Homo sapiens: one gene and its partner. The protein of the gene in region 2 purifies or fractionates together with the protein of the main gene of each other region. This does not show direct contact. Each region holds a gene or a part of one and is shown on either strand. Other genes may lie near its edges.

Region 1 (3,500 bases), on a different chromosome or scaffold from region 2:
GGGTGTGTTGGTGTGCACCTGTGGTCCCACATACTCGGGAGGCTGAGGTGGGAGGATTGCTTGAGCCCAGTGGACAGAGGCTGCAGTGAGCCAAGATCACACTGTACTCTAACCAGAGGCTGCAGTGAGCCAAGATCACCACTGTACTCTAACCTGGGCGACAGAGAGAGACTGTCTCAAAAAAATAAATAAATAAAAGAAAATTACATTACCAGCCTCAAACTCTTCTGATACATATGGCAGGGTAAAGCCCAATAAGTACAAGCCATACTTCAGTACCTAAATAACACAGTTCCACCACAAACCTACCACTCACCTGACCATCACACAAGTGACAGAAACCACGAATAATTTTCTGTTTATACAGCTGATCTGCTTTCAACTCCATTCGGCGTACAGTCTGCATCATCCTGTAGTATTTGAGCCCATCCTCCCTGGTGAGCACTGTTGTGACAGGAGGGCCTTCTTCCAGCCGGTGAAGGTCACATTTCTGAAATGGAATAAGGTAGTTATTATCCTCCACATACTACATTGCAAACACTGTTGACCACTCTAAGATCTAACTCCATTGCAAATAATATTGAACTTGAAAAACTGCAAAGGAGCACATCAGTAATGCTTCATATCGCCTCTGTTCCTTAAATCCATAAACCTCACTGTGCAATGAGATGGGGCTTGGGGGAAGGAAATCTTTCTAAGATGATTTTCACTGAAAGCCCCTAGAAGCCAACTGAGTTATAGGTTGAAAGAACCTTCAAAGAAACAACTAAGACTCTTCTTATTCAAATATTTCACTGAATTACATTCCAAACTTTTGAATAAGCTTTTATTTTTATTTTCATTTTCTAGCTCCTCCCCCTTCCCCCCACAGAACAACAGCAAGCTGCTAATAATAAATTCTAGTTTTCGTGAAGCTTCTCTGAACTTCTGATCCTGGAACATTTAGAAGAAAATGATGACTAAGCATGAACATCAAAATGTTCTATTCTAAAGGTAAAACTGTATATCAGAGTGTACCTGTGAAAAAATTATTAACAAAGTAAAACACCTCTTACCTTAATTTCAAATGTAGCATCATTTGCAAAATTACGGGATGCTACCAGCACTCTGCTTGCCTTAAAAGACAAAAATATACAAACAAATCAGTACTTTTTAATTGTCAGCTATTTTGGAAAGTATAATAATCAGTTATCAGAATGAAGTTATGGAAATTTAATAAGCCCCAACATATTCATAGGCTTCTCTTCCACCCTGTGCACTGTGTTTGCATCTTCCTTGGCCTCCAAAATGAATCCATGCTTTGGCCAATGAAACAGGATTATCCCGCATCTGAAGGCAAGCAGCGCAAAGAGGGGCAAAAAACAAACCCATCCTTTGTTTTCAAAGAAATTATAGTGAGAATATAATGAAATTAGTGGCTAAAGAGACTAGATCATCTGTGAGCTGTGTCTGTTTATGCCATTCTTTTGTTTGTTTGTTTTGAGACGGAGTTTTGCTTTTATCACCCAGGCTGGAGTGCAGTGGTGCGATCTCGGCTCACTGCAACCTCCGCTTCCCGGGTTCAAGTGATTTCTCCTGTCTCAGTCTCCCGAGTAGCTGGGATTACAGGTGCCCACCACCACGCCCGGCTAATTTTTATATTTTTAGTAGAGATGGGGTTTCACCATGTTGGCCAGGCTGGTCTCCAACTCCTGACCTCAGGTGATCCACCTGCCTTGGCCTCCCAAAGTACTGGGATTGCAGGCATGAGCCACTGCGTCTGGCCTTTTCATGCCATTCTTAGTCATAACCAGATACTGTTCATTTTGAGCAAGCCAAAATTATACTTCAAATAAAACTATGATTTAATCTCCACTCTAGGCAAACTTGACTCTTCTATCAAATTGGATCTGTAAGAAAAAATATTTTAAATTGATTGAAGTATGAGATAAATACTTTAGGGAGACAAGACAAAAGAAAAGATACTTAGCACTCTCTGACTTAAACACAATGGGCTTGAGCCAGCTGTTTTATAATTTATAATTTGAACAGCCTAAATCTTGGACAGGCTCCTCCTGAAGCCCCAGTAGAAATGTTCTCTGAAACACTGTTCTCTTGATGTTTGGGTGGCTGTCACTGTTTGGAGGTAAAAAGCTTGGAGGCGGGGGGTGAGAAATGATTCCTTTCCAGTTTTACAACTGAGCAAACCTGCTCACAGCAAAAGTATTCTATGTAATGGCTAAGGTTTAGGTTAGACCACAAAATTTATCCAGTAGTATTATCATACTATTTTAGCTCCCTTCTGCCACATTCTCACACACTGACGTGTAAACCAACATGATTTCTCCATAAAAAGCACATCTGATGTGTTCATACCTTACCTAATCCAGCACTGGACTGATCTTGGTGAGAAGAGTTAAGACTGATCTGCCAAGTATACCCTGGAGTGTACAAGCCAATAGGCAGAAAGCTAATTACGTATATCTTCACCCCTCAATAGACCATTATTGGACAAAGCCAACAAACACAGACAATGACAGTGCTGGAGGAAAACAACTGAAATACTAGGAATCAGTGTTTCAGTTAACTTACAGGCAGAGACAGTCCACTAATGTATCTCAGAAAAAGTGAAGGAAATTTAGGAATTTGGGAAGAAGTAAAGCTGAGAGAAGGTGAAACAGCAAATCAATGGTTATATTTAGCAATCAAACAGATGTGTTATTCTTGGCAGTTAATAAATATTTTGTGGGGCCAGAAATTTATTGTATTGTGAAATAAATTTCCAAATACAACTACAGAAACTGCAGTTTTTGGAAGGCAGGAGTCCAAACCAGCCAGGCGACAGTAACAGAGAAAAGGTAACTTCTTTCTCAATCCTAGAGTTGAAACAATGAGGCAGGATAATGCTATACAATAAAGAGCAAGAAGGGGCCCAGTGCTGTGGCATGCGCCTGTAATCTTGCGCCTGCAAAGATTAGGACTGCCAGAAAGCTACTTAGATACTTTCTCCCATGGCTTCATTACTGTGTATCTCAAAAATAAGAACCACTGATATGAGTGAAAGGAACAAAGTTAAAGAAGCTAAAAGTCCTATCAGAAGTGTGTGTGTATCATTTCTGAGTGAGAGCTTGTTGAAAAGATAAGTTTACCATTCATTTTCTCTGGAGAGCCATAAAAAGATTCTCTGTTAAATGGGATTCCTCTCTGACAGAGACCACGAACAACCCACTCAAATTTTAAAAAATAAAAACTAGGCCGGGCATGATGGCTCACACCTATAATCCCCAGCACTTTGGGAGGCCAGGGTGGGAGGACCACTTGAAGCCAGGAGTTCAAAGCCAGCCTGGGCAACATGAGACTCTCATCTCTACAAAAATAAATATTAAAAAATTAGTCAGGTATGGTGGCACACACCTGAGGCTACAGTGAGCTATGACTGTGCCACTGCATTCCAGCCTAAAAAAAAAAATTAATTAAAAAAAAGTAAAACTTTAACTTCCTAAATACATAGGAACCATTCA
Region 2 (3,500 bases):
TCTCTTATCCAGAGCAGAAGTCAGACTAGGGAAGCCACAAGTGAAAGCCACTGACTTCCACTTCTCCCTCCGTTCCTACATGCTAGAGGTGGTGATAGGCTAACTCTGAGTAGAGCTGACTTGGCTAAATCTAGTTGCAACTGACACCACAGCAGGAACACTATAAAAAGTTTATGAACCTCACAATATAAGATCACCATCATATTAATCTGCTCAGGCTACCATAACAAAGTACCATAAATTCATAGGCTTAAACAACAGACATTTATCTTCTCACAGTTCTGGAGGCTAGAAGTCCCAGATCACAGCCCAAAAGGGTCAGTTTCTGGTGAGGGCTCTCTTTGTGGATTGCAGACAGGTGCCTTCTTGCTGTATCTTTGCATGGCCTTTCCTCAGTACAGTATGTGCAGGTGGGAGGAGAGCATGCACAAGGTTCCTGGTGTCTCTTCTGATGAGTACATTAATGCTCTCAGGGCCCCAACCAATGACCTTATTTAACCTTAATTACTTTCTTGAAGGCCTCATCTCCAAATACAGCCACACTGGGTGTTAGGGCTTCAGCATATGAATTTTGAGGGGACACAAACATTCAGACTCCGTAACTCCATAACAGCCACACTTTTATATATTCTTAGCCAAAATCAAAAGTATATTTTGGGTGTTTGGGAAGTATAATAGTGCTTTAACAGAAACCAAGTAAGGGTGGTTTAAGTGGGTTCCTTACAGTTTCATTCTGTCTCTCATAAATTCTGAGCTGATACGTAGTCCTGAGATCATCTGAGGACCCAATCCCTTCTCTCTTTTTGCTGTACCATGAGCTGTTGACCGTGTTTGCATTGTCAGGTACTGGTGCACTGACAGTGTACTACCACTAGCCCATGGGAAGAGGGGACCAGCAGGAAGCAGCTTCGTTTTTAAGGACTTCACCTAAAGTTGTACACATCATTTCCAGTTGAATCCCATAGACCAGGTCTCTTGGCCACACCTAGCTGCAGAGGAGGCTGGGAAATGTAGCTGGGTGGCCATTTGCCCAAATCAAACCCTGGGGCTTTATTAAGTTAAAGAAATTAAAAAGAAATGGATGCTGCTGGATTAGTTACAGTCTCTATGCACTTGAAATTTTATGTATTAGTTTATTAGGACCAACACACACATTCAGGTTTATAGGAACTAGTAAATATCTTGTGCATGGCCCCAATTTATTAAGCTCTTTGGGAATTTCTTTTTGATAATTAGAAAACCAATATGCTTTGGGAAGTGTATTTTTTTTAACCTAAGGATATTTAAATCTATTTAAATAATCATAGTTACTTTTGTCAATGTAAAAATTAAATGTTGGTGCTCGCTTCAGCAGCACATATACTAAAACTGGAGCCACACAGAAAATTAGCATGGACCCTGTGCAAGGAGGACATGCAAATTTGTGAAATGTTCTATAATTTTTTAATAATTTTTTTAAGTTTTATAATATAAAAAAAGTTGTATTGTGATATCCTAAATGATTTGTTTCCTAATAAGAGCCTTCTGTCTCAGTGATAACCATTATGTAAAATACTGATTTTTATTTGCTACTAGGAAATGTAAGTTTAAAACTCAGACAGATGTTTATTCTCATGAAGGTGACATCACTAACAAAAATGGTTGATTATAGCAATATGAAGGAGATTCTGGTTGAATTTTCTAAAGATTTTCTCTTTGAAATATCTCTCTCTTCCTCTTCTGTCGTTAGCCTTAAAATATATAAAAATCAGTATTTGCTATACCTAATGTTTACTGCGTGTAAGTATCTATGTTAAATATGTGAATCAGGCCGGGTGCAGTGGCTCACGCCTGTAATCCTAGCACTTTGGGGGTCCAGGGCTGTGGATCAAGAGGTCAGGAGTTCAAGACCAGCCTGACCAACATGGTGAAACCCCATCTCTACTAAAAGTACAAAAATTAGGTGGGCGTGGTGGTACAAACCTGTAATTCCAGATACTCAGGAGGCTGAGGCAGGAGAATCGCTTGAACCTGGGAGGCAGAGGTTGCGGTGAGCCAAGACCATGCCACTGCACTCCAGCCTGGGCTACAGAGCAAGACTCCATCTCAAAAAAAAAGAAGAAAAAAATTGTAAATCAAGAAATCAAGGTTGAAGCGCAAACCAGGTCACTCTTGTACATGTAATTGCCATAAAAGCTAGCAGTTTTCAAATATATAAAAGCATAAGCTTTTTTAAAAAACAATTTTACTTAAAATTCCGATATAAAAAAGCAGATGAAAACAAAACTACAGTAGTATAGATTTATTTTGTAAATTCAAATGCAATCAGTTAATAAAAACAGTTAAGCTGCCTTGATAAATGTACATTTGAAATTGGGGGGTAATAGAAGGCCATTGCAGTTTTATAAACTTAAGTATCCAGTTTGCTTCTATATTTTGTTTAGGTTACATAATTTTTTTTCAGTTCCAAAAATGGTATCTTTTTAATAGCATGTCTCATCTTCAATTAAACCAATCTGACATATAAAATTAAGTGATAGAAAATTTTTGATTCAGTGTTGAGTCACTCACAGAACCTTATCACCTCTTCATACTTTGTTGTTGTTTCCCCAGAGACAGGATCTTGCTCTGTCACCCAGGCTGGGGTGCAGTGGTGCCATCTTGTCTTACTGCAGCTTCCAGTTCCTAGGCTTAAGTGGTCCTCCTGCCTCAGCCTCCTGAGTAGCTACAACTACAGGCACACACCACCACACCTAGCAAATTTTTGTAAAAAATTTATTGTAGAGATGAGGTCTCACTTTGTTGCTCAGGCTTCAAGCCATCCTCCTGCCTCAGCCTCTCAAAGTGCTGAGTTTACAGGCATGAGTCACTGCACCCAGCCCTCTTCAAACTGTTAATCATAAATATAAAAATCACACAAGAAGCACTCGAGGAACTCAAGCTTGGAATAAGTGGTAAAACTTTGTAATATAATAAGCATGGGACTCTATTATGGTAATTAAATTTCTTTAAAACAAATTCAGTTGAATATATTATAACATTGTAACTGTTACACTACATTATTGATTATTGGCCTCTCTTAGGAAGAATATGAAGAACTGCTTCATTATGCTATAGTGACTCCAAATATTGAACCCTGTGCTTCACAGTCATCTCATCCTAAGGGAGAATTGGTGCCAGATGTCAGAATTTCTACAATTCATGATATTCTTCATAGTCAAGGTTATATATATTTTTCAAGATATCTCTTAATTTAAAATATTACTGAGTTTATTAATGATACTGACAGGATTGTGAAAATGCCTGTCCAGATCAGTGATTCTTCTCAACCATTTATGTGTATTAGTATCATCTAGGGGAGCTTTTTACATTTTAATATATTATTCCTGACTCTCGTGTGACAGCTTGATTTTTCTTTGAACTTCATTTGACTCTTACTTTTATGAAGAATAATAAAGTTGAAGCAATGCTATGGCAACTGCATGGCTTTTTGGTATGTTGTATCTCAGTACTTGTTCCAA

Evidence for each region. The genes of interacting proteins can lie anywhere in the genome.
Region 1: the proteins of POC5 (region 2) and PDHA1 purify together in Homo sapiens (co-immunoprecipitation; one large-scale study listed by IntAct). This does not show direct contact.

What each region holds. Positions count from the first base shown.
Region 1 is NC_000023.11:19,346,927-19,350,426, reverse strand, and holds part of PDHA1 (pyruvate dehydrogenase E1 component subunit alpha, somatic form, mitochondrial isoform 1 precursor), read right to left. Parts: intron 1,116-3,500; coding exon 1,056-1,115; intron 491-1,055; coding exon 317-490; intron 1-316. UniProt on the Homo sapiens protein: The pyruvate dehydrogenase complex catalyzes the overall conversion of pyruvate to acetyl-CoA and CO(2), and thereby links the glycolytic pathway to the tricarboxylic cycle.
Region 2 is NC_000005.10:75,707,438-75,710,937, reverse strand, and holds part of POC5 (centrosomal protein POC5), read left to right. Parts: intron 1-3,062; coding exon 3,063-3,201; intron 3,202-3,500. UniProt on the Homo sapiens protein: Essential for the assembly of the distal half of centrioles, required for centriole elongation. Acts as a negative regulator of centriole elongation.